Linked DNA regions of Homo sapiens: region 1 is linked to region 2. The links come from fine-mapping of genetic effects on gene expression. Tissue or cell type: lung. Region 2 holds a variant in brackets; the other region holds the start of a gene. All regions are shown on one strand. Distances are between the middles of the regions. Region 1 holds the start of ABCC6 (ATP binding cassette subfamily C member 6). Region 2 overlaps ABCC6 (ATP binding cassette subfamily C member 6).

The links.
Region 1: it holds the start of ABCC6, and the variant in region 2 is fine-mapped to the expression of ABCC6 in lung (TOPMed, PIP above 0.99). The same link has a PIP of 0.9 or more in cerebral cortex.

What each region holds. Positions count from the first base shown.
Region 1 is chr16:16,215,228-16,226,961 of GRCh38, reverse strand. It overlaps ABCC6 (ATP binding cassette subfamily C member 6), which reads left to right and starts at 3,468. Exons shown (of 31, transcript NM_001171.6): 1 at 3,468-3,563; 2 at 5,131-5,313; 3 at 7,015-7,140; 4 at 7,280-7,408. The coding sequence starts at 3,528.
Region 2 is chr16:16,194,065-16,210,778 of GRCh38, reverse strand. It overlaps ABCC6 (ATP binding cassette subfamily C member 6), which reads left to right. Exons shown (of 31, transcript NM_001171.6): 7 at 1,920-2,051; 8 at 7,166-7,369; 9 at 8,601-8,778; 10 at 12,597-12,758. LOC105371100 (a long non-coding RNA gene) reads right to left here and starts at 1,922. Exons shown (of 3, transcript XR_933131.3): 1 at 1,835-1,922. RefSeq lists an enhancer at 10,007-10,508. The variant C/T (reference allele first, on the strand shown) is at 9,021.

The sequences.
Region 1 (11,734 bases), 19 kb before region 2:
ATATCACAGGGTATACACCCACTGTGATATTAGGGGTAGTAACATCTCTCAAGGATATAACGAATAATATGACAGGGTGTACATCCACTGTGATATTATGGGTAACAATATCTCCCTAGGATGTAACGAATAATATCACAGGGTGTACACCCACTGTGATAAGAGGAATAATAATATTTCTCAAGGATATAACAAATAATATGACAGGGTGTACATCCACTGTGATATTATGGGTAATACTATCTCCCCACTACATAATGAATAATATCACAGAGTGTACACCACTGTGATATTAGGGGTAATAACATCTTCCCCAAATATAACGAATACTATCACAGGGTGTTCACCCATTGTGATATGAGACATAATAATATCTCCCCAGGATACAACAAATAATATCACAGGGTGTACACCCACTGTGATATTAGAGGAAATAATATCTTCCCAGGATATAATGAATAATATTACAGGGTGTACACCCACTGTGATATTAGAGGGATTAATATCTTCCCAGGATATAATGAATAATATCACAGGGTGTACACCCACTGTGATATTAGAGGAATTAATATCTCCCCAAAATATAATGAATAATATTACAGAATGTTCACCCACTGTGATATTAGGAATAATAATACCTCCCCAGGATATAACCAATAATATCACAGGGTGTACACCCACTGTGCTATTAGGAGTAATAATATCTCCCCAGGATATTACAAATAATATTACAGGATGTACACCCACTGTGACAATATGGGTAATATCTCCCAGGATATTATGAATAATATCACAGGGTATACACTTACTGTGATATTAGGAGTAATAATATCTCCCCAGGATATAATGAATAGTATCACAAGGCGTACAGCCACTGTGATACTAGGAGTAATATAGTAGTATCTCCCCAGGATATAACAAATAATATCACAAGGTGTACATGCACTGTGATATTAAAGGAAATAATATCTCTTCAGGATATAATGAATAATATCACAAAGTATACACCCACTGTGATATTAGGGGTAATATTATATCTCCAAGATATAGTGAATAATATCACAGGGGGTACACCCACAGTATATTAGGGGTAATAGTATATCCCCAGAATATAACGAATAATATCACAGGGTGTACACCCACCGTGACAATATGGATAATATCTTCCAGGATGTTACGAATAGTATCAAAGAGTATACACCCACTGTGATATTAGGGGCAATATCTCCACAGAATATTACAAATAATATCAAAAGATGTACACGCACTGTGACATTAGGGGTAATATCACCCAAAAATATTACAAATAATATCACAGCATGTACACAATGGTGTACGTTCATTGTGATATTATGATATCCATAGGGTATTACAAATAATAGCACAGGGTGTACCCCCACTGTGATATTAGGAGTCATATCTTTCTGGGAGGTCACAGCGTGTACACGCATGGTGTAAATTCACTGGGATATTAGGAGTAATATCGCCCTAGAATATTTCGAATCATATCACAGGGTGTACACCCACTGTGATATTAAAAGGAATATCTTTCTAGAACATTACAAATAGTATCACAAGGTGTACACCCACTATGAGATTAGGAGTAACATCTCCCTAGAATATTATGAATAATATCACAGTGTGTACAGGCACTGTGATTTTAGGAGTACTACCTTCTTAAGATATTATGAATAATATCATAGGGTATACACCCACTGTGAAATTAAAAGCAATAGCTCCCTACGATATTACGAATAATATCACGCAGTGTACACTCAAGGTGATATTAGGAGTAGTATCTCCCTAGGAAATTACGAATATTATCACAGAGTGTACACCCACTGTGATATTGAAAGTATTATCTTTCTAGGATATTATGAATAATATTACAGGGTGTACTCCCTCTGTGATATTAGGAGTTATATCTCCCTAGGATATTACAAATCATATCACAGGGTGTACACCCACTGTGGTATTAGGTGTAGTATCTCCCTAGGATATAACAAATAATATCACAGGGTATACACCTACGGTTATATCAGGAGTTATATCTTCATAGAATATTATGAATAATATCACAGGGTGTACACCCTCTGTGATATTAAAAGTAATATCTTTCTAGGATAGTATGAATAATATCACAGGGTGTACTCTCACTGTGATATTAGCGGTAATAACTCCCTAGGATATCACGAATTCTATGACAGAGTGTACACCCACCATGAGATTTGGAGTAATATATCTCTAGCATATTATGAATAATATCACAGGTTGTACACCTACTGTGATATTAGGAGTAAAATCTCCCTCGGATATTACAAATAATATCACAGTGTGTACTCCCACTGTGATATTAGGAGTAAAATCTCCTTCAGATATTACGAATAATATCACAGGATGTACACCCACTGTGATATTAGGAGTAATATCTCCCTTGGATATTTCTAATAATACCACAGCGTTTACACACATGGTGTTCACCCACTGGGATGTTAGGATAATATCTCCCTTGGATATTACCAATCGTATCAGAGGCTGTACACACGTGGTGTTCACCCAGCGTGATATTAGGAATAATATCTCCCTCGGATATTAGGAACAGTCTCTCCCTGGGACTTAGCAGAACGTAGCCCCCCAGTGTTAAATAAGCGACCACAGCAAGAGGTAGAGGCGCAGGGACTGAAATGAAGACAAATATCTGACAAGTTTAAAACACGTATTTAAAATAGAATTTATAAAATGCTTAATCTGCCGACTCAGGAGCCCGCGGTGCAGGGTGGGGTGGGAGTTGGCAGGTGACCGCTACACCAGCAGAGTAAGACTGCAGGGCTGCGGCCCTCCCTCCTATGCCCTTCTGTTCAGACACCCGAGGGGCCCATGTGCACTCCTGGGATCATACGACCAGAAAACAGGACCCTAGAGGTTTCTTGAGTTTCTGCTTACCAGGGCGGCTGGGTATAGCCCTGCCAGCCCATTGCATAATCTTCTAAGTTCTCCCCACCACCCTCCATTCCAGCAGCGAGGTGCCTGTGACGCGGTCTCCATCCTCTCGGCCTCGACCCGGTGGTCCCCGCGATTGGACGCTTAGGCGGTCACCAGGCCTCCTTGTTACTAACGTGTGCACACCTTTCAGTTCTCTCATCAGGATGAACTCCTGGAAATTGCTGGGTCCAAAGTGTTTAGGAAGTCTGGAGTGATTCTTGTTGCAGGGGGAAGAGGGAACTATGGAGGTGTCACTGAACTTTCAGGGGTTCCGGGACCCCCCAACCCGGTGCCCGTCCCAGCTCCCCGAGCGCCTCTCTTCCCCCATCCCCCACCTCGCCTGTTTTCACCTCCCGTGGCCTCACTCCCGCCGCGCAGCTGGACCTTGCCCGGGGCCTCCCGATCCCGGAGCTCGAATCCCAGCCGGACCAGCCCAGCCCGACCAGCCCAGCCCCGCCTCTTCTCCGGCAGGATCGCGGCCGAGCAGTCTGCCCAGAGACTTAGCGACAGACAGACGCTGGGACCCACGACGACAGAAGGCGCCGATGGCCGCGCCTGCTGAGCCCTGCGCGGGGCAGGGGGTGAGTGCCCCCCATCGCGCCCCACTCTCCTTTTCCAGGCTTGGTTTGGCTGCAGATCTCTCGGGCTGCGATACTGGGGAGAGGAGAGACCCCCAAATTCCTGGACCCGGGAAGCGAGGAGACTTACTCCGGCCCCCTCACTGCAGCGGGTTGGATTTCTTTCACCAAGCCAGCAGCCGAGAGCCCAGCTCTATTTAAGGGGCCACCAGACCTCCCAGCTACTAGGGGCTTTGACTCTTCTTTGCATAAAGCTAGTGGGTCCCCCAAGCCCTCCTACCCCCGGAGAGCCCTTACCTCTCTGGTTTCTTTTTCCATTGCTCTTAGCAAAGGACTCCAGGGAGTGGAGTTCATGGAGTGGGGGTGGGGGTTGCAAACTGCCAGCATTTCGAGGGCCAGGGAGTTGAAGCAATAAACTGGCAATGAACTGAGGGCTTTCTCTGTGCCTAGCCTTGTGCCCAACCTTGTGCCATGCTGCTATGAACTTTGCTGCTATTAATCCATTTAATACAACTCATAGAGGTAGAGTCTCGTTTTCCCCCTTTTACAGGGAAGGAAACTGAGATACAGAGAGGTTAAAGTTTGCACAGCCGGTGAGTTGTGAAACCAGGAGGAGTAAAAAGACAGCGGAGAGAGAATTGAAGAGGCCACGTCCACTAAACTTCAAATTTCTTCTAGGGTTAGATAGGACCAGCAGACCTGCTGAGATGAAAATAACAGATCAAGCTGGGCCGGTGGCTCTTGCCTGTAATCCCAGTACCTAGGAGGCTGAGGCAGGAGGATTGCTTGAGACCAGGAGTTCGAGACCAGCATAGAGAGACCCCCATCTCTACAAAACATAAAAAAAAAAAATTAGCCAGGCCTGGTGAGGCTGCTTATGCCTGTAATCCCAGCACTCTGGGAGGCCGAGGTGGGAGGATTGCTTGAGCCCAGGAAATTCGAAGCTTTGTTGAGCTTTGATTGTGCCACTTCAGCCTGGGCAACAGAGTGAGACCCTGTCTCTAAAACATAAATTAATTAATAATAAAAAATAAAAACAAATCATACATCAAGACCACCAGTCGAACGAGGTTTGGGGTCAGATAAGCCTGGGTCAGAGTCAGCTTTGCCACTTCCCATTTGTGTGTCCCTGGGGGAGGCAGTTCCCCGACTGGTGCCTCAGTCTGCTGGTTTCTGAAATGGAGACAGTACTGTCTGCGTCCTGGAGTTGTTATAAGGATTAACTGACAGTCCATGCCTAGCAATGATTATGGAGCCCAGGTCTCCTAGACCACATGGCCCAGTTCCCTGGGTTCAAATCCCAGCCCTTCCACTCCTCAGCTGGGTAAAGTCAGCAAAGTTACTCAACCTCTCTGGTCCTCAGCTTCTTCATCTGCAAATCAATATAATTGCAACTACCTAGGGTTAATGTCAGGATGAAAGGAATTGAGAATTAGTAGGTATTCCAAAGAGTACTTGGTACATTTTTGTGTAAATGTTAAAGATCCAAAAAGTTGCCTGGCCCCCTGGGCAGGTGAGCTGGGGACCCCTGCCTTGTACCATCCTAAGGGTCCTCTTTGTGTTCCCTCAGGTCTGGAACCAGACAGAGCCTGAACCTGCCGCCACCAGCCTGCTGAGCCTGTGCTTCCTGAGAACAGCAGGGGTCTGGGTACCCCCCATGTACCTCTGGGTCCTTGGTCCCATCTACCTCCTCTTCATCCACCACCATGGCCGGGGCTACCTCCGGATGTCCCCACTCTTCAAAGCCAAGATGGTAGCTGCCATCCCTGGGAGCCTGGAACCAGGCAATGTTCGGGGGAGGCAGGGGACAGGCTGGAACCTGGTGAAGTCTTAAAGTAGACTCCTCCTATCGGGGTGTAGAAGGGAATCTGTTAATCAAACAGAGCAATATTAGAAAGGCTACAGAGGTCAACTCAGTGGAACACGGTTCTCCCAAACAGATTTTGTAATTCCGAAAATCCACGCATGCGCAAACATACGCATACACTCCCATGTTCCTGGACAGTTTATAGCTACCATAACCTGGCATTTTCCAAAACATACCATGTAGACTCTTGGATACACAAGGTAATTTTAGAGCCACATTAGGATGAACCTTTTAAAAAGTTATGCATTTATTTTTATGTTCCCCCACTGGCTGTATTATAGGACAATTTTTATATGTGATATGTATTTACCTTAGTGTGTTAAATAAACACTGGCATTCCAAGTGTGAGCCTTTCTGCTCATCCATCCTCTTCTACTCCATTCTTGTAGGCTTCCAAAGAATGTTCTTCAGAGTTCATTCATTCTTCTGCCATTGTATTAATTTTTACATTATCACCCGCCACCAACCCAGGGGTTGGCAAACTTAAAGAGCCAAGCGGTACACAGTATTTGAGACTTTGTGAGCCAGGTAATCTTCCTTCCGAACACTGAACTCTGCCATTCCAGAATGAACGCAATAGTCATAACCATAGACAATAGTCATGACTGTGTTACTTTTTTGTTTGTTTTTTTTTTTTGAGATGCAGTTTTGCTCTTGTTACCCAGGCTGGAGTGCAATGGTGCGATCTCGGCTCACTGCAACCTCCGCCTCCTGGGTTCAAGTGATTCTCCTGCCTCAGCTTCCCGAGTAGCTGGGATTACAGGTGCCCACCCCCACACCTCGCTATTTTTTTGTATTTTTAGTAGAAACAGGGTTTCGCCATGTTGGCCAGGCTGGTCTCCAACTCCTGACCTCAGGTGATCTGCCTGCCTTGGCCTGCCAAAGTGCTGGGATTACAGGTGTAAGCCACCACCCCCGGCCGACTGCGTTTCAATAAAACTTTATTTGTAGTCACTGAAATTTGGATTTCATGTAATTTTCACCTGTCATGACATATGCTTTTTGTTTTTCTTTGATGATTGATAGTTTGCCAACTTCTGCTTTAAACTGAGGTTCTTTGAGCAGTTCCTCCAACGTAACCTAGCTCTGGCCTTCCCTCTGGTGTGCCCACGTTCTCTCATTTTCTTCCTTTCTTTTATTCAATAGAGAAACCAAAATATATTAGAGAGACCCTAGAGACTTACTGGCCCAACAGAGAGTTGCTCCTTGATTTCATAGCAGGGATTGAAAAATGACTTGGAGAAAGGATAGTTTTTTACCTGGTGAGTACATTTCATTTCCTGCTGTTTCTCCATACCCACAGTCATCTCATATGTGCACGATTGGAGCACTTCCTGCATTTTGGAAAACACTCGGTTGGCTCAAGCCCTTCCTGTGCATTATTTATATGACAGTTACAGGTCAGGAGTGATCTGCAATGCCCTTTACACATTGTTCACATTGGCACGTTGCTAGCTGGTGACCCTGGTATACTCAGTATCAGCCAGGATGTTGCAGAACCAGCTCCCAGTTGGACATGGGGCCGCCTACCAGTTTGCTGTGACCTCTCTTATTGCCCCCCAAGCTTATCTAAGCCTGTATCCTCAGGTGCTTGGATTCGCCCTCATAGTCCTGTGTACCTCCAGCGTGGCTGTCGCTCTTTGGAAAATCCAACAGGGAACGCCTGAGGCCCCAGAATTCCTCATTCATCCTACTGTGTGGCTCACCACGATGGTAATGATGCCTTCAGTCTGGAGCCCGGCTTCCTCCCAGCTGCTGCTTTGCCTGCCACAGTGGAGAACAAGGGGAAGAGAAGAGGCTCCCCTCAGCCTCCCACCCTCCCCTAAGGGGCCTCCCTGACTTTCCCGTCCAGAGCTTCGCAGTGTTCCTGATTCACACCGAGAGGAAAAAGGGAGTCCAGTCATCTGGAGTGCTGTTTGGTTACTGGCTTCTCTGCTTTGTCTTGCCAGCTACCAACGCTGCCCAGCAGGCCTCCGGAGCGGTAAGTCGGGGCGTGGGCCACCCTGGGAAACCAAAATGGTGGCTCATGCCTTGGGTCCCTTCCTTTCTCCTCCTGTTTCCACATACAACTTATTCTCTATACAGTGACACACACAAGCCAGTCACTTACACTCTAGAGACACAAAATCCACTCCCGCACCTGTCAGTACCCATCATCCCATACATTTCTTATCAACACAATTTCCTGTCTTACAGGCCCACATCACACGTGCCACTTGCACACGATGCACACACTTATAGGCACTGATTCATACATCGCACAAGTACATGCATGCACGCACACACACACAACCTGGGCACAGACACACCTGTGTGCACACATACCCCTCCGTGCACACCTCCCCTCATGTCATGGATTCACCCTCCCCATGTTCCTATGCACCTATATTTACACACTCATTCTGCACACCACTCGTATTTCTGTTGCCCAATCTGGGAAGCAGCTTTTTTTTTTTTTTTTTTTTTTTTTTTTTTGAGAGGCTTGCTCTGTCGCCCAGACTGGAATGAAGTGGCATGATCTCAGCTCACTGCAATTTCTGCCTCTCGGGTTCAAGCACTTCTCCTGCCTCTGCTTCCTGTGTAGCTGGGATTACAGGTGTGTGCCACTACACCTGGCTTATTCTAAATTTCTACTAAATTTCTACTAAAAATTTCTACTAAATTTCTACTAAAAATTTTTGTATTTTTAGTAGAGACGAGGTTTCACCATGTTGGCCAGGCTGGTCTCGAGCTCCTGACCTCAAGTGATCCACCTGCCTTGGCCTCCCAAAGTGTCGGGATTACAGGCGTGAGCTCTTGTCATTCGGCCGGAAGCAGCGTTTCTCTATTAGGAGACATGATGGGTCATTTTCTCTGTAAAGAGAAAAACATGTAGCCTAGACCAACTTCCCTCAGCCTCAGCTTTAGTAATGTTGTGGCCAGACAATTCTTTGTTGGGTGGACAGGGCTGTCTTGTTTGCTGCAGGGTGTGAAACAGCATCCCTGGCTTCTGCCCATAGGTGCCAGTAGCATACCATCCAATTGCAGTAACCCAAAATGTCTCCAGATATTACCAAGTGTCCCTGGGGGTGAGGAGGACAAAGTCACCCACCTATTGAGAAGCACTGGCCTCGACAGTGTGCTTAGCCAAGGCTTCTGGGAGAGGGAGTTATCTTAACACCAATGAACAGGCTGCAGCAGGTTTCAGATATTTTACTTCATTATTTTATTTTTGTGGAGACAACATCATGCTTTGTTGCCCAGGCTGATCTTGAACTCCTCGGCTCGAGCAATTCTCTGACCTCAGCCTCCTAAAATGCTGGGATTAGAGGCATGAGCCACCACGTCTGGACTCACAGATCATTTCTTCAGTCCAGTGGTTACTCCATCCTGCCCCTAAAGGAGAAGGTAGAGAAGCATCACCCTGTCCTTAAGGACAGAGTTTTTATTTTTTGTTTGTTCATTCTGAGACAGAGTCTTGCTCTATTGCCCAGGCTGGAGTGCAGTGGCACGATCTTGGCTCACTACAACCTCCACCTCCGGGTTCAATCGATTCCCATACCTCAGCCTCCCAAGTAGCTGGGATTACAGGCATGTGCCACCATGCCCAGCTAATTTTTGTATTTTTAGTAGAGACAAGGTTTCAATATGTTGGCCAGGCTCATCTCAAATGCCTGACCTCAAGTGACTCACCCGCCTCGGCCTCCCAAAGTGCTGGGATTACAGGCGTGAGCCACAGCGCCTGACCGAGGACAGAGTTTTTAAAAGAGTAACCTTTGTAACTAAGGGGAAATTCCACAGGTTATTCAGTAATTTCTGAAATGGTGGGCTCCCACAGTTGACATAAGTCAGCTTTTTGGGACACAGCATAGAAACAATAATACTGGGACCATATACATTCTGGGGTTCCAACCATGTGCCAGGCACTGTGGCAGGCACTTACACACGTCTCCTCACTGGATTCTCACAAGAGTTCACAGTGATGGGTTCTTTATTTTTTTAAATAGAAATAGAAACAAAGTCTCATTATGTTCCCAAGGCTGGTCTCAAACTCCTGGGCTCAAGCGATCTTTCCACCTAAGCCTCCCAAAGTGCTGGGATTACAGGCTTGAGCCAATGTGCCCCAGCCAATGATGAATTCTAGCCGTCCCATTTTAAAGATGAGGGAGACTAAGGCTAGGAGAAGGGAATGACGGCCTCAGGGCCACAAAGCTTGGGAGTGCAGAGCCCGAGTTCATCTCAGGCAAATTCAGAACAAACTTTCTGAGAGAAACAGTGGGGAAAACAGTGGGAGTTTAGGGAAGATGGGCCATATTGTCATTGGAATATCCAATTGTCTGCTATCTGCCAAAAAACAAACAAACAAACAAAAACCCAAAACTAGAAGAGTATAAAATCCAGTAGAGGAATCATGATTTAAAACTAGGGCTCTGGTTTAAAGCCATAAAACCTCAGTTCACACTAGCTTAATGAAAAGGGTAAGTCAAGGGGGTTCATTAGCTCATGCATTTATTAGCTCATACCCATGGGATCTCCCAGGCATGACTGATCCAGGCCTGGGACCAGGTACCATCACCAGATCTCCACTTCTGCCTCTTGGCTCTGCCATGTTAGCTTGATTCTCCAATGGAGTGGCAAGAAGAGCCACCAATACCTTCACACTTACATTCTAGCATGTAGCAAAGCCAGCAGAATCTCCCGATGGTTCCAGCTCTCAAGTACCCAGCATGGGGTGCTATGTGCATTCCTAACCCTGCCATGGTAGCCAAAAGACCAGAACGTATTCGTTGGCCAGGCCTCATTCACCCACCCAGCCTCGGAGTAGAGTCAGTTCTGCACAAATCACACGCCCGAACACAAGCAAAAAACTTAGGAAGAAAGAAAATCAGTACATGGAAGAGATCTCTGCACTCCCATGATTATTACAGCACTGTTCACAATAAACAAGATTTGGAAGCAACCTAAGTGTCCATCAACAGACGAACTGATAAAGAAAATGTGGTATATATACACAATGAAGTACTATGCAGCCATAAAAAAGAATGAGGTACTGTCATTTTCAACAACATGGATGTTAAGTGAAATAAGCCAGGCACAGAAAGACAAACTTTACATATTCTCACTTATTTGTGAAAGCTAAAAATTAAAACAATGTAACTCATGAACATATAGAGTAGATGGAAGGTTACTAGAGGCTAGGAAGGACAGTGGGTGGGGGAAATGGGGATGGTTAATGGGTACAAAAAAACAGAAAGAATAATATCTATTTGATAGCACAACAGGGTGACTATAGTCAATAATAATTTAATTGTACATTTTAAAATAACTAAAAGAGGCTGGACACAGTGGCTCACACCTGTAATTCCAGCACTTTGGGAGGCCAAGGCAGGAGGATCATCTGAGGTCAGGAGTTCAAGACCAGCATGGGCAACATGGTGAAACCCTGTCTCTACTAAAAATACAAAAAAAGTAGCCAGGCGTGCTGGCACACATCTGTAATCTCAGATACTCAGGAGGCTAAGGCAGGAGAATCACTTGAATCCAGGAGACGGAGGTTGCAGTGAGCCAAAATCAAGCCACTGCACTCCAGCCTGGGCAACAGAGTGAGACTCCAACTCAATAATAAACTAAAAAATAAAATAACTACAAGAGTAGAATGGATCATTTGTAACAGAAAGGATAAATGATTGCGGGGATGGAGACCTCATTTACCTTGATGTGATTATTATGCATTGCATGCCTGTATCAAAATATCTCACGTCATCCAGAAATATATATATCAGGCCGGGCGCGGTGGCTCATGCCTGTAATCCCAGCACTTTGGGAGGCCAAGGCAGGCGGATCACCTGAGGTCAGGAGTTCAAGACCAGCCTGGCCTACATGGTAAAACTCCATCTCTACTAAAAATACAAAAATTAGCCAGGGGTCGTGGCACATGCCTGTAATCCCAGCTACTCAGGAGGCTAAGGCAGGAGAATCGCTTGAACCCAGGAGGCGGAGGGTGCAGTGAGCCAAGATCATGCCACTGCACATCAGCCTGGGTGACAAAGCAAGACTCCGTCTCAAAAAAAAAAAAAGTATACACACACACACACACACACACACACACACACACACCTAAAATTAAAAAATAAAAAATGCTTTAAATTAAAAAAAGAAAGAAAATTAGGGTGTTTCTGACCAGATGACAGGGCAGCAGATGCAAAAATCATTGTGGTGTGGCAGCAGGAGCATCACAATTTGGACCAGATCATCTGCGTGTCCTTGAACAAGGTGCTGTCACTTCTCTGAGCCTTGGTTTCCCCCTGAGTCAAAGGAAGCAAGTAAA
Region 2 (16,714 bases):
CTTTGAATGTGTGGAACTGGTAGAAAGAGCTTAGAGGTTTTCGAAACAGCTCTACTGGGGGGTCCAGCCCCTGCTTCCCAAACTTAAGCATTTATGGACCACTCTTGATGCTTTTTTGTCCTACTGGGGCAAAAACTAAATTGAGTCACTTTTTTTACTCGAATAAACTGTTTTTAAAAAGAAACTCTCTATCACTGCTAAAATAGGAAAAATCTATAGCATCACTTGCCATATAGGAGAACTCCAAAAATAATTTCAGGGAAAATCAAGCCACGTTAATAATTTCTATGTCAGAACGGTTGCTTCCCCAAGTTGGCTCTGCATTAGAAAAGGGAACTTGGTGGCCTGGCGCAGTGGCTCACGCCTATAATCCCAACACCTTGGGAGGCTGAGGCAGGTGGATCACCTGAGGTCAGGATTTCGAGACCAGCCTGACCAACATGGTGAAACCCCATCTCTACTAAAAATATAAAAATTAGCCAGGTGTGGTGGTGGGAGCCTGCAATCCCAGTCACTCAGGAGGCTGAGGCAGGAGAATCACTTGAACCCAGGAGGTGGAGGTTGCGGTGAGCCGAGATCACACCAGTGCACTCCAGCCTGAGCAACAGAGTGAGATTCCATCTCAAAAAAATAAAAAGAATAAAAATAAAAAAGAAAAGGGAACTTGGTAAGGCTTAGAGAAGAGTCAGAGACCAGAACCAGGCAAGACCTTCTGGCTGGTGTCATCAGAAAGATTAAAGAGACCTGAGGCCAGGCACAGTGGCTCACACCCATAATCCCAACACTTTGGAAGGCCAACCCTGACAGATCACTTGAGGCCGGGAGTTCGAGACCAGCCTGGCCAACATGGCGAAATCCCATCTCTACTATAAACAAAAAAATTAGCCAGGTGTGGTGGCTTACGCCTGTAGTCCTAGCACTTTGGGAGGCTGAGGTGGGAGGATTGCTTGAGGCCAGTAGGTCGAGACCAGCCTGGCCAGCATGGTGATACACCATCCAAAAACACAAAAATTAGCCAGGTGTGATGGTGGCTTGTAATTTCAACTACTCAGAAGGCTGAGGCGTGAGAATCGCTTGAGCCAGGGAGGCGGAGGTTGCAGTGAGCCCAGATCACATCAGTGCACTCCAGCCTAGGCAACAGAGTGAGACTCCATCTCAAAAAAAATAATAATAATTAAAAAAAAAAAGCTGAGGGAGGAGTTCAAGCTTCTTCTACAATGATAGTTTTGGTCAACGGACTTCTGATTCCCAGGGAAATGTCTGTTTCCCTTGCCAAGGGCTATCCCTTGGTTTAGCCACTGAATCTCTCTGCACTTCTATTTCCTTCCCCATCTGTAAAATAGATCTATAATAATATACTCATACATTTATACAATTATAAACTATCAATTTACAGGCTGGGTGTGGTGGCTCATGCCTGTAATCCCAGCACTTTGGGAGGCTGAGGCAGGTGGATCACCTGAGGTCAGGAGTTCGAGACCAGTCTGGCCAACATGGTGAAACTCCATCTCTACAAAAAATACAAAAATTAGCCGGGTATGGTGGTGGGTGCCTGTAATCCCAGCTACTCAGGAGGCTGAGGTGGGAGAATCGCTTGAACCTGGGAGGTGGAGGTTGCAGTGAGCCGAGATTGCACCACTGCACTCCAGCCTGGGAGACAGAACAAGACTCCATCTCAAACAAACAATAATAACCTACCTTATGGGTTCATGTAAGAATTAATGAGACAATCTTTGTGAAACGAGAAATGCCCTGCAGACATTAGGTGGGGTTAGTGAATTGCTTTCTTTTTACCCAGGGGCCAGTAGAGGTACAGAGAGGTAAAGTGACTTACCCAGGGTCACACAGCTACTCGCCTGGCCAGGATCCTGCAGGGGTGAATGGCAGGAAAAGCTTTCCCTGGTGCCCCTCTTTTGCAGCCTGGTCTGGAGGGGATACAGGAGGCCACTGAGACCAAAAGACCTCTGGTCGCTTGGGAGAGAAAACTCCTCAGAAGAACTTGTTTCCCGGCTTGAAAAGGAGTGGATGAGGAACCGCAGTGCAGCCCGGAGGTAAGTGGGTGGAGGTCAAGAACTCACCTGATGCTACTTCAGAAAAGCTCATCATTGGCCGGGTGCGGTGGCTCACGACTGTAATCCCGGCATTTTGGGAGGCCGAGGCAGGCGGATCACAAGGTCAGGAGTTCAAGACCAATCTGGCCAACATAGTGAAACCCCATCTCTGCTAAAAATAGAAAAATTAGCTGGGCGTGGTGGTAGGCACCTATAATCCCAGCTACTCAGGAGGCTTGAGGCAGGAGAATCGTTTGAACCCAGGAGGCAGAGGTTGCAGTGAGTGGAGATGTCACCATTGCACTCCAGCCTGAGTGACAGGGCCAGACTCCGTATCAAAAAAAAAAACAAACAAACAAGACAAAAACAAAAACAAAAACAAAAAAACCTCATCATTTGACCCCCAGTCCAGCCCCCAACGCTACTCTGGCGGCACTGCCGCCTCCCCACCTTGCCTTCCAGCTGATCCCACTAAGTAGTATCAGGCTTAAGATATGGTTCCTCCCAGAACGCATCACAGGTTCCTACAAACGGGGAACAAACAGGTTCCTACAAATGGGGAAATGGCAGAATGACAGGCAGCAAACAGAAGAGGTATTTTAAGGCCGGGGTGGAGGGTTGGGAGGTGACTCAACACACAAGCAGCTGCTCACTTACTATATAACCTGAGCAATTCCTTTCCTGGGCCTCAGTTTTCTCATCTGTTCAGTGGGGATGTCATTAGCCCCAGCTCATAGCTTATGGGGATGAAAAAAAAGGATGATTTATGGAAAAGAACTTGCAAATGTCTTGCAAATGGGAAGTGCTCAAGCACTGTTAGTCATCCAGAGGGTGTTAAGATCTTTGGAGTTATCCACTCTGTCCACTCCTGCCCTCAGTGGCATCTCTGGAAACTTCTCTGCAGCCCTTAGAGCCTGGGATGCCTCATTTGAGAAACTCTGGTCTAGATAAATGAGCCTGCATAGGATTAGATAAAATTGGGTTAAATGCTGCCCTGCCTTCAAATAGTGATGACCTTGGACACGTTGCTTAACCTCACCGGATCTTGGTGTTTTAGGAGACAGAACAAAAAAGGAAGTTAGCTCTGTGGGAAGTTCCCTGCATACTCCGGGATTTTGTGGTAGTTGTTGCAGATGGCTGAATCCCACACATTAAGAGAGACAGAGGAGACAGAGACTGATACTATAGGCTCACACAGCTAAGAGGATCTAGCCTCAGGTGTTGCTGGATCAGGGGACTCAAATGATGTCAGGATTCTCTCCTTTCATCTCCCATCCCAACTATTATCTATGTGTTGGTCTCTCCATAAGGCCTATCCCTTCCCATGCAAGTTCAGCAAACTCCAGCAGAATAAGAGAGCATCTCTCTCCTAACGTCCATATAGTAAATCCCAAGGAAGGCCTCTAATTGGCCTGGCTCAAGTCATGTGCCTGTCAGGGGCCAATCCCATGCCCAGGGGGCTGGTGCCATGACTGGTGGTCCCTTCAGAGCCACAGAAGTGGGTAGGGGCTGTTCCCACAAAGGAAGGGCATGTGTTTTTCCAAACAGAATAAGTAGTGTGAGAGAACCAAAACATCAGTTCTCTCTCACCCCAGGCATGGCTTGCTGGACCCCCTTCACTGGGTTGTGGTATGATCTCAGCTCACTGCAACCTCCACCTCCTGGGTTCAAGCAATTCTCCTGCCTCAGCCTTCTGAGTAGCTGGGACCACAGGCGTGTGCCACCACATCTAGCTGATTTTTAAATTTTTTTTAGTAGAGACAGGGTCTCACCATGTTGGCCAGGGTGATCTTGAACTCCTGACCTCAGGGGATCTGCCTGCCTTGGCCTCTCAAGGTGCTGGGATTACAGATGTGAGCTACTGCACCTGACTCACCCTCTACTTTTGAATGATTTTACGGAAGTGGCAGAATCCAGTCCACAGGGGCTCTGGAAGGAGCCTCTGCCAACTCCTGGCATCCCCAGCCAACATGAAAATTACAGGTCACCCAACACTAGAACTAAAGGGTAGAAACATTCTCCAGAACAGTTTGAGAATCCTCCCATAAACAGTTGACAGAAAGAAAGGGGAAAGATGGGGTTATACAAAGACCAGGCTCCGTCAGCTTCTGAAACAACCGACTGCACCCACAGAGAACTTTGGTTTTCTTTCTGAAGTATTTTGCAACCACTGGGGGAAGGGAGAGGGCGTCCTCCTGAGAGGCCACACAACAGCCACCTGCTGGTCCAGTCGGCTTCACTAATTTTTGTATTTTTTATTAGAGGCGGGGTTTCTCCATGTTGCTCAGGCTATCAGACTGGCCCTGAACTCCTGACCTCAGGTGATTCGCCCGCATTGGCCTCCCAAAGTGCTGGGATTACAGGTGTGAGCCACCGTGCCCGGCCTCCACCACTCCCTTTTGTATCCCCCAACTCACACCTTGCCCATGCCACTCATGCATACCCCCTGCCTTGCCCCACCATCATTTGTGAGATCTGCACTAAATGGCCTTCAGTCCAGAGACCAGACGTCAGACAGCAATCTGGACATCTTCCTTGATGGGAGGTGAGACCTGCAGGAGAGGAAAACACTTGCTATGGAGCCTGCAGGCTGAACACACTGACTCTCTGGGTTAAACAGCTCAAATAGAACTGAGCAGAACCTCAGCCAGAAAGAAAACTTTCCAGTGAACTCTTCCCCGACCCCATTTTGCAGATGGAAACACTAAGGCTCAGAGGAGAGGAGACAGAGCAGGCATTGGAACCACAGTCTCCTGGCTCCAAAGCCAAGTTCTGTCCACCCAGCCAAGCTCCTTCCTTCCTTCTATAAATTTTTATAACAGTATGTGCAGGGGGCACTCTTATTAGGCCCTTTGCACACATCACTCAATCTGTTTTTCCCATTCATTTGACAAGTGTTTATTGAGCTCCTACTGTGTGCAGGAGCTGGACTCTATACTAGGGACATCTTGGTGGAAAACACAGGCAAAGTCTACCCACCTGGGGTTCTAACGAGACAAAGAGAGGGTTGGAGCCATGGACATGGCTGTGAAGGCAATGAATTAAATGGCAGGATCAAACAGGAAAGGGTGGGCAGGGATGCTCTCTGTATGGAAGGGGCATCTTCTTGGCTTTGAGATCCAAATGCCAAAATATTTGTGAGCAGCAGGCCACACCCACTCAGTAACAGAGCTGAACCACAACCCTCCATAGATGCCAAACCAAACACCAGATCAGACCAATAATGTGGGACAGAGACCTTGGCCTTGAAGGGTCTGGCCACCTGAGCTCACCAGAGGTTTTTCTTATGCTTCTTTTTTTATTATTATTTTATTATGGTGAGGTTGGGGGTCCTTAGTGCACAAGAAACCCTTTACAAACCATAAATCAAGATCTAGGCTCAAATCCCTGCTCTGCCCTTGCTGTGTGACCTCGGGCGGCTGTCGCCATCTCTCAGAGCCTCAGCTTCCCCTTCTGTAAAATGGAAAACCTAATAATGCTCACCTGGCAAGGGGATCCAGGGGAGTCAGTGAGCTCCTTCGTGTAAAGAGCTGATCCCAGCACGTGGCCCCGGGTCACAGATCTGTAATGGGGATTGAAATTACTGATAAGTGGCCGGGCATGGTGGCTCACACCTGTAATCCCAGCACTTTGGGAGGCCGAGGCAGGTGGATCACCTGAGGTCAGGAGTTTAAGACCAGCCTGGCTAACGTTGTGAAACCCTGTCTCTACCAAAAATACAAAAATTAGCCAGGCATGGTGGTGTGTGCCTGTAATCCCAGCTACTTGGGAGGCTGAGGCAGGAGAATTGCTTGAACCCAGGAGGCAGAGGTTGCGGTGAGCCGAGATTGCTACACTGCACTCCAGCCTGGGCGACAAGAGCGAAACTCTGTCTCAAAAAAAAAAAAAAAGAAAAGAAAAAGAAAAAGAAATTACTGATAACCTTATAGGTTGTCAGAGCCACAGGGGACTCAGCAGGGGACCACACCCATCCTCTCACACACAGAGAGAGGAGCAGTGTCCCCGCCCAGGACCACACAGCAACCGGACTGTCAGCAGCTGCATCGCCCCAGCCTCTCCTTTCTGGCCCAGGGCTTCTGACCTGCCTCACAGGGGCCCTCGGGCCTCCCCCATCTCCTCCTCTCCCTCCCTCACCTTAGCTCTTCTCTGTGGCCCCTGGTTATAGCCAAAGGCTGGGGATCTTATTAGTTTGAGGCAGCCTGAGCTTCTGTCTGCACTTTCACCCAGAGCTAGAGCACCAGGCCCCATGCCCATCAGCCGTGATTCTCCACCAGTTCAAAACCACCTAAGGGCTGGCTGATTGTGTGTGTTGGGGACGGGGTGCTGTTCTTCCTCCAGGTTGACAACACGATAGGTTGAAAAGTACATGAGAGGCCAGGTGTGGTGGCTCACATCTGTAATCCCAGCACTTTGGGAGGCCAAGGCGAGCAGATCACCTCAGGTCAGGAGTTCAAAACCAACCTGGCCAACATGGCATAACCCCTTCTCTACTGAAAATACAAAAATTAGCTGGGTATGGTGGCACTTGCCTGTAATCCCAGCTACTCGAGAGGCTGAGGTGGGACAATCACTTGAACTGGGAAGTGGAGGTTGCCGTGAGCTGAGATCACACCACTGCACTCCAGCCTGGGCGACAGAGCAAGACTTCGTCTCAAAAAAAAAAAAAGGAAAAGAAAAAAGAAAAGTGCATGGGCTCTGGAGGCAGAGAGCTGGAATCAAATTCCAGTTCTTTTACTTCTCAGCTGTGTGCCCTTGGGCAAGTTCGCTTCTCTGAGCCCCAGTTTTCTCATCTGTGAAATGGGAACAACACCTGGCTTCTCAGGGGGTCTTAGGATGACTGGGGAGTGCCTGGCACATAGTAGGTGCTCAACAGGTGTGCTTTCCCATGGCCATCTAAGAGGCCTCAGAGTGCCCTCCTGCCCTGCCCCCCAACTCCCATGATTGCCTCTTAAGTGGGTACTCAGGGTGATAAGGAGGAACAGGTGAGGGAGCCAGGCTAGATCCACACCCACCCATCTCCACTGTTGGGAAAACAACCCTTTAATGCCTGGCCCTGCCGCTGGCGGCTGAGAGTATAAAATGGGACCCAGAGCTAATCTCTCCCTTCCCCTCAGGCACAACAAGGCAATAGCATTTAAAAGGAAAGGCGGCAGTGGCATGAAGGCTCCAGAGACCGAGCCCTTCCTACGGCAAGAAGGGAGCCAGTGGCGCCCACTGCTGAAGGCCATCTGGCAGGTGTTCCATTCTACCTTCCTCCTGGGGACCCTCAGCCTCATCATCAGTGATGTCTTCAGGTTCACTGTCCCCAAGCTGCTCAGGTGAGTCCCAGACCTCAAGTGCCCTGCTAAGGTGGGTGGTCTCTTAGTGGCATCCTTCCAGGGCCAGGGGGCTTCAGCTCTCCTGCCTCTGCCTATACGTCTGGTGCTCGGGACACTGGATGGTGGGTGAGAAGGACACTGAGGAAGGGAAATGGATTAATGAGAAAGTGACTGACCCCCAGAAGGGCAAATAAGCAAGCTCTTACCTGACTGCATCAATTAGTTTTTGCTGTAAAATGCCCCAAAAGTGAGTGGCTTAAAATGACAAACATTCTTTTATTTAGTTCATGGTAATGTGGGTCAGTAATGTGGGCTGGGCTCAGCTGGGTGGTGGTTCTTTTCTTGGCTGGGTTTTCTCATGTGCCTGCAGTTGTGTATCTGAGACTGGGATGGCTGTCTCTGCTCCATGTGGGTCCCCATCCTCCAAAAGGCTAGCTCAGACTTGTTCATGTGGGTGCTTGGGAGGGTTCTAAGAAATAGACCAAAAACCACATTTTCTCTTGAGGCCTAGGCTCAGAGCCAGCATGGCTTTACCTCCACTGTACTCTGTTGGCCAAAGCCGGTTTTGTAGCCAGCCCAGATTCAAGTGGTGTCTGCTCAGCTGACATAACAAAGCATCACAGACTGAGACTGAGTGGCTTGAACAACAGAAATGTATTTTATCATGATTCTCAAAGCTGGAAGTTCGAGATTAGTATCTGCAAGGTGGTTCCATCTGAGGCCTCTGTCCTTGGCTTGCAGTTGGCCACCTCCTCCCTGTGTCCCCATATGGTCTTTCCTCTGTTTGCGCCCCCTGGTGTCTCCTTGTGTGTCTACATTTCCTCTTCTTAAAAGGACCCCATCAGATTGGATTAGGGCCCAGCCTAATGACCTCATTTTTAACTTCATTGCCTCTTTAAAGGCCCTATTTCCAAATACAGTCACATTCAGAGGTACTGGGGGTCGGGGCTTCAACATATAAACTTTGTGAGGACACAATTTAGCCTATAACAAGTGGGAACAAAAACTCCACCTCTTGATCTTGAGGAGCTGCAGTCAGATTGAAAAGGAGTATGGACAGTGGGGGAAATAACGGAGACCATTATTGCAAAAAAAACCACACTGACTGATCCTCCACACCTGGACTAGTTTGGGCCGACTGATCCTCCACATCTGGACTGGTTTGGGCAAAGGCAACACCCTTAGGCACCTCCTCTCACCAGCTGTACCTTCTCCCTCCTTCCCCTGCAAGCCTTTTCCTGGAGTTTATTGGTGATCCCAAGCCTCCAGCCTGGAAGGGCTACCTCCTCGCCGTGCTGATGTTCCTCTCAGCCTGCCTGCAAACGCTGTTTGAGCAGCAGAACATGTACAGGCTCAAGGTGCTGCAGATGAGGTTGCGGTCGGCCATCACTGGCCTGGTGTACAGAAAGGTGAGCCCTGGGGGACAAGGGCAGGTCTTCCCAGCCAGGAAAAGCAGTATCACTGAGCGGGCAGTAATGTTATCAGCAGCTGAGAACGCATTCAGTCCTTGCTTATTAGAGTCACTCACCATACATTCTCACTTCCTTAGTTATTTCTCTGTATTATATGTATTTATTTTTTTGAGATGGAGTCTTGCTCTGTCACCCAGGCTGGAGTGCAGTGGTGCAATCTCGGCTCACTGCAACCTCCG[C/T]CTCCCGGGTTCAAGTGATTCTCCTGCCTCAGCCTCCTGAGTAACTGGGACTATAGACACGTGTCACCACGCCCAGCTAATTTTTATATTTTTGGTAGAGACAAGGTTTTGCCATGTTGGTCAGGCTGGTCTCGAACTCCTAGCCTCAAGTGATCTGTCTCAGCTCCTTAGTTATTCCTGTAAGGTCTTGTGTGATCTGTCCCTAGGGTGTCTCTGACCTCATCCCGTCACCTCCTCCCATGCTCACTCTCCTCCAGCCACACAGGTCTCCTTTCAGTTCCTCAAACACTCCAGGCCCCCACCCACCCTGGGGCCTTTGCAGCTGTTCTCACTGTCTAGGCACCACTTCTACTCCCCCAATCTAATTTTAATTTTTGAGCCTGATTTTAACTTCCACTCATTCCCCCTTGAGGATAAAGGATTAACCTTCTGATAAGGTGGCCTGTCAGCTGTGTTCCCAGACAATACTGCTTGGGGTAAAAATGACCCCTAGGCTGGGCACAGTGGTGCACGCCTGTAATTCCAGCAATTTGGGAGGCTGAGACAGGCGGATCACTTGAGGTCAGGAGTTCAAGACCAGCCTGGCCAACATGGCGAAACCCCATCTCTACTAAAAATACAAAAATTAGCCAGGCATGGTGGCATGTGCCTGTAATTCCAGCTACTTGGGAAGCTGACACAGGAGAATCGCTTGAACCCGGGAGGTGGAGGTTGCAGTGAACTGAGATCACGCCACTACAGCGCAGCCTGGGTAAGAGAGCGAGACCTCGTCTCAGAACAAAAAAAAAACAAAACAAAAAAACCCAAATTGCATCTGGGCTGGAAGTTCTGTCCATTGACTGTGAATACCTGGTTGGAGGCCATAGCTTTAGACTTCTCTCTGTGCAGTGGCTCTTGTCCGTTCCTGGGACTCTGGAAGCTAAGTCCCTGGACTGCTGCCCCAAGAGCTATTGGCTCCTGTGGGGTATGGAGCATCTGAGCCAGGGCAGGTCCCGTCCCATGTAAGTGTCATTCCCTGACACCTGAGCTGTCACCTAGGGGAGGAGGGGACAGAGGGGACAGCTCCTAGGTGGCCGAGAGGGCAGCTCTTGATGCTTTCCTGCCAGAGTGCTGCATCCCAGGCTCCTGTTCCCCTGAGCATGCCAGAGCTAGGTGTGCCCTATCCTGTCTTGAGAGTCCACATTTCCTTGAGCCTAAGAGGAAGGCCGCCTGGTGAGCAGGCATTGATCTTCCTATTCCCCACCCACACGCCAGGAGGCCTTCTTTGATCTCCTGATGAGATCAGATCCCTCCTCTCTAACCTCTGGGCTTTTTTTTTTTTTTTTTTTTCTGACAGAGTTTCGCTCTTGTTGCCCAGGCTGGAGTGCAGTGGCACAGTCCCGGCTCACTACAACCTCCGCCCCCTGGGTTCAAGTGATTCTCCTGTCTCAGCTTCCTGAGTAGCTGGGATTACAGGTGTGCGCCACCATGCCCGGCTAATTTTGTATTTTTAGTAGACAGGGTTTTACCATGTTGGCCAAGCTGGTATCGAACTCCTGACCTCAGGTGATCCACCCACCTCAGCCTCCCAAAGTGCTGGGATTACAGACATGAGCCAACGCGCTCAGCCTGGGCTACTTTTTTATGTTACTCATCATAACTGCCATTAAAGCATGAGTTTTAGAAATATTTTTGTTTTGTCTTATTTTTTTGAGACAGAGTCTCACTCTGTCACCCAGGCTGTAGTGCAGCGGTGCAATCTTGGCTCACTGCAACCTCTGCCTCCTGGGTTCAAGCAATTGTCCTGCCTCACCCTCCCAAATAGCTGGGATTACAGGTGCCCACCAGCATGCCCAGTTAATTTTTGTATTTTTACTAGAGATGGGGTTTTGCCATATTGGCCAGGCTGATCTCGAACTCCCGGCCTCAAGCAATCCACCCGCCTCAGCCTCCCAAAGTGCTGGGATTACAGGTGTGAGCCACTGTGCCCGGCCAGTTATATAAATCTTTATTATAGAGCCTTGTTCCCCACCTCAAACTCCAGGCCCGGGAGAGCAAGCCTCATCTCTGTTGTTCACAGCTGTATTTTCAGTTCCCAGCTCAGTGTGAGTCACACAGTGAGCACTCTTCAAAGACTTGCTAAGTGGAGAATTTCTATGTCCAGTCATTCCTGGATCACTTCTTCACACCCTCACGCAGTCACAAAGGGAGGGCTGCATTTGGAATTTAGCATTCAACAGGCTGGAAGAGGTCCACTGTGACCCCAGGGTTAAGGCAGATGTGAGGCTGCCAGAGAACCAGGTTGGTGTCACAGAAGCACATGAAAGGTCTCACCCTTGTCATGCCTTCGTCACCCTGGATTCCATTCCTTGTGTAGGAGCTTACAAGGCCTGTGACTTTGGGCAAGTTGCTCAACTTCTCTCTGCCTCAGTTTCTTTAGCCATAGAATGGGGTTAGTAAATGTTCATTTCATTGATTCTCGTCTCACATTTTTTTTTCACTCTAATACTTCCAAAATCGAGATGTCTCTTACATGTCTTAATTTAACTGGAAGTGGTATTTTCCTTGGTGAGAGAATAATAGAGAGCAATTTATCCATAGAATTTTTTTTAAAGACAGGGTCTTGCTCTGTTGCCCAGGCTAGAGTGCAGTGGCACCAACATGGCTCACTGCAGCCTCAACCTCCTGTACTCAATTAATCCTCCCACCTCAGCCTCCCCAGTAGCTAGCTAGGACCACAGGCGCACCACAACCATGCCTGGCTAATTTTTTCTTTTTTCCCCCCCGAAATGGATTTTGCTCTTGTTGCCCAGACTGGAATGCAATGGCTTGATCTGGGCTCACTGCAACCTCTGCCTCCTGGGTTTAAGCGATTCTCTTGCCTCAGCCTCCCAAGTAGCTGGGATTACAGGTGCCTGCCACCATGCCCAGCTAATTTTTGTATTTTTGGTAGAGACAGGGTTTCACCATGTTGGCCAGGCTGGTCTCCACCTCCTGACCTCAGGTGATCTGTCCACCTCGGCCTCCCAAAGTGCTGGGATTATAGACGTGAGGCACCGCACCCGGCCCCCTGGCTAATTTTTTAAAGTATTTTGTAGAGCTTGGGTCTTACTATGTCGCGCGGGCTGGTTTCGAACTCCTGGGATCAAGCAATCCTCCCACCTCAGCCTCCCAGAGTGGCGGGATTACAGGCAGAGGCCACTGCACCTGGCCTGGCATTAGAGGGAATGAATATGGTAGTGCCTGCTTGGTACCATTCATGGCTGTGAGCACCCCGGGAAAGGATAAGGCTGTTCATTTAGCACAGTGCCTGCGACATGGTGAGCACTGGGCAGATGACCACCGTTATCTGTGTTAATCTGGTGTTTTCGTGCATGTTATTCATTATTATGCCTCCCGTGCTTTAGGGATCTTGGAGGATTTTCATTTTTGTCATCTCTGTGGATCCTCAAAGAGCCCTGAGAGGTTGGCCTAAGAGACTTTACTCACCCACCTCGCAGACGTGTGAGGTGGGGCTCAGTGGGTGGAGAAGCCACCTGGGGCATCCCTCTGCCCCGGCCTCCCCACTTTACTTCTCTCCTTCTGCCCACCCGCCAGGTCCTGGCTCTGTCCAGCGGCTCCAGAAAGGCCAGTGCGGTGGGTGATGTGGTCAATCTGGTGTCCGTGGACGTGCAGCGGCTGACCGAGAGCGTCCTCTACCTCAACGGGCTGTGGCTGCCTCTCGTCTGGATCGTGGTCTGCTTCGTCTATCTCTGGCAGGTATGCCAGAGGAGGAAGACGGGATTTGAACGGAGTCCCCCACCCCCTCCTTCTCCCCCTCCTCCTTCCCCCTCCCACCCTTCCTCCTCCTGACTTAGCATTCAAGAGGCTGGAAGAGGTCCGCTGTGACCCCAGGGTTAGGGCAAGTCTGAGGCTGTGGGAGAACCAGGTTGGTGTCAGAGAGGCACATGAAAGGTTTTACCCTTGTTCTGCCTTCATCACCCTGGATTCCATTCCTGGTGTAGAAGCTCATAAGGCTTCCTCCCCTCTCCCTCTGCCCCAGCCTCCTCCTCCTGCCCCCCTCCTCTTGCACCCCTCCCTGCACCCTCCCTCCTCCTGCATCTCTCCCACCTTCTGCCCACGCACCCCCTCCTCTTCCTGCACCCCTTCCTTTTCCTCCTTCCCCCTCCTCCTCCTCTTCCTCTCTCCTGCTCCACCTTCTTCTTCCTTTCTGCTCCCTGTCATCTTCCCTCCCACTTCTTCCCTTCTCCCTTCTTCTCCTCTACCGTCCTCCCTCTCTTCCCTCTGCTCTTCCCTCTCCTTCTCTTCCCTTTCTTCTTCCTCTCCTCCTTTTTCTCCTCCCCTTCCACCCCCATCTCCTCCTTCTCCTCCTCCTCCAATCCTGTCTCAATTTGCCTACTATTGTCTGATACGATGGGAAAAGTCCTCAATAAGGATGACCTTCACTTGACCTTGGGCAGGAAGTTCACCCTCTCTGGGCCTCAGTTTCCTCTGTAGAAAGATGATGATGATGACGTTGATACTTCCCCATGTGCTATTAGGGTACCCAGTAGGCAAGTTAACCATGTTTTGAAGTTACCAGTAACCCTGAGGCACCACCATAGCCACTGTCCACAAAACACAAGAGGAGAACATTTTAGGGGGAAAAATTGCTACTTAGTGTTCAAAAAACACAAAGTAGCCATCAGGAAACAACCAAACAAAACAAACAAAACATTTACTTTCCAACTTCATTCCTTTAACGTTGTGGTATAGGATTTTCTTTTTTTAAATTAAAATCAGACTCTGGGCCAGGCACAGTGGCTCATGCCTATAATCTCAGCAATTTGGGGGGTGAGGTAGGTGGATCACTTGAGGCCAGGAGTTCCAGACCAGCCTGGCCAACCCCGTCTCTACTGAAAGATACAAAAATTAGCCGGGCATAGTGGTGGGTGCCTATAACCCCATCCACTCAGGAGGCTGAGGCAGGAGAATCGCTTGAGCCTTGGAGGTGGAAGTTGCAGTGAGCTGAGATAATGCCACTGCACTCCAGCCTGGGTGACAGAGTGAGACTCTGTCTCCAACAAATAAATAAAAGTAAAAATAAAATTAGACTCTGTATCGGGAACTGCCTAGGCTCAAATCCTCCTTCTGACCACTTATCAGTTGTGAATCTGTGTGCAAGGACCCTACTCTCTCTGTGCCTCCTGTTCTTGTCTCCAACGTGAGGATCATAATTAACAGTAGCACTCCTGCCCCAGAGGGGCTGAGGCATTAAACGAGCCCATATGTAGAAAGCACTTAAAAGGGTGCCGGGCACACAACTGCACCCTGTAGGTATTTGTAATATTATCATTAGTTACTTTTCCATAAAGGATAAGACAGTAGATGCTTTTTACACTGGAGGCCACACCATCTCTCCTGCAAATATTCATCTCTGCCCTTGGAGTGCAGAAGTGGCTGTAGACCATACTAAGCAAACAGGCATGGTATTCCTCCAATAAAACTCTATTTATGGATGCTGACATTTGAAGTGCATATCATTTTCATATGTCGTGAAATAGTATCCTTTTGATTTTTTTTTTTTTTTTGAGACAGAGTCTCACTGTGTTGCCCAGGCTTTGGTGCAATGGCACAACTTCGGCTCACTGCAACCTCCACCTCCCAGGTTCAAGCAATTATCCAGCCTCAGCCTCCTGAGTAGCTGGGATTACAGGCGTGCACCACAACATCTGGCTAATTTTTGTATTTTTAGTAGAAACTGGGTTTCACCATGTTGGCTGGGCTGGTCCTGAACTCCTGACCTCAGGTGATCTGCCCACCTCAGCCTCCCAAAGTGCTGGGATTACGGGCATGAGCCACTGTGCCTGGCCTTGTAAAAACTGTTAATGGCATTTTGATTGTAATTGCTGAATATTCCAAAAAAAACTCGAATGCTCATGCATATGATTGTTTTTGCTAAGGCTAGGGGCCAGGACTTTTTCCAGTGTCTTCACCTTGTATTCCAGGGCCTTGCAAACAATAGGCAGGTGCTTAGCAATTACAACATAAGGCACTCAGACAGGGCTTCATGTGCAGTACATAAATGTCATCATTAGGAAGAAAGAGAGGGAGAGAGGAAGAACATGGGAAAATTCAGGGCAATTGATCAGGTTGACCCCACCGTTGCTAAAAATCAGATGAGACCAGGCGGGGCACGGTGGCTCACGCCTGTAATCCCAGCACTTTGGGAGGTGAAGGCCGGCAGAACACTTGAGGTCAGGAGTTCAAGACCAGCCTGGCCAACATGGCAAAACCCTGTCTCTACTGAAAATATAAAAATTAGCCGGGCATGGTGGCATGTGCCTGTAATCCCAGCTACTAGAGAGGCTGAGGCAGGAGAATCACTTGAACCCGGGAGGTGGAGGTTGCAGTGAGCTGAGATCACATCACTGCACTGCAGCCTGGACGACAGAGTGAGACTCCTTCTAAAAAAAAAAAAAAAAAAAAAAAAAAAATTAGATGAGACCAACAAGATATCCATAGATAATGCACCATGTTACTTTGCTTGTGTACTTTTCCTGCCTCTTGGTAGACAGTTCCTAACATCACCGTGAGGTCTTGGTGAAGGAGGAGTGGACACTGAGGTTGCTACAGTTTAATGATACCATTTTTCCCCCAGACAGAGATGTTCATCTTCTGCTCACATTCCTTGAGTGTTTTTCCAAGCCCTGCTGTGGGCTGGTGTTTACCCTCTGCGCCCTTCTCCATTGAGCCACTAGGTAGCGCCATTGCCGCATAAATGAAACAAACTGGCCCAATGTTAGAAAATAGTGTTCCCAGGCCAGGTGGGGTGGCTCAAACCTGTAATATCAGCACTTTGGGAGGCTGAGGTGGGTGGATCACTTGAGGCCAGGAGTTCGAGACCAGCCTGGGCAACGTGGTGAAACCCCATCTCTACTAAAAATACAAAAATTAGCCGAGTGACACATGCCTGTAATCCCAGCTACTCAGGAGGCTGAGACAGGAGAATCGCTTGGGAAGCAGAGGTTGCAGTGAGCCAAGATCATGAGACTGCACTCCAGCCTGGGTCACAGAACAAGAATCCATCTCAAAATAAACAAACAAATAAATAAATAAATAAACATAGTGTTCCTAAGGACTGAGACGGGAAACTGAGGCACACAGACTGGAGTTGGGGTGGGGCTTGTCAAGAGAATGGGTCCAAATAACCTGTGCAGAAATCTCAGAAAGTCACAGCAACTTAAAAATCATTTATTCTACCCCCCACTTCCACATTTTCCAGATATAGAAACCAAAGCCGAGAGGGGGAAGATAACCATCCCAAAATCACCACGTTGGTGGGGGAGCAGGGTTGCCAGAGAAAACACAGGACATTCAGTGAAGTGTGAGTTTCAGACAAACGGAAGAATTTCTCAGTGTATGTCCCAAATATTTCACGAGACTTAGACTAAAACCTTATTCACTCTTTATCTTCAAATGTAACTGGGCATTCTGTATGATGATTTACTAAATCTGACAACCCTTGCGAGGGATGAAATGAAGATTAGGAAAATAATTAAACGCAATAAGAGAAAATGCCAAATGAGAACAACTCTATTCCCATTTTGCAGACAAGAGAATTGCACCTAAGGGAGATGACTTGCCCCAAGGCCACACTCAAAACTCTCAGGGTCAGGATTTGAACCAGGTCCCCTGATTCCATAGGTCTCAACTTTACTGTTGTGGCTGGGAAC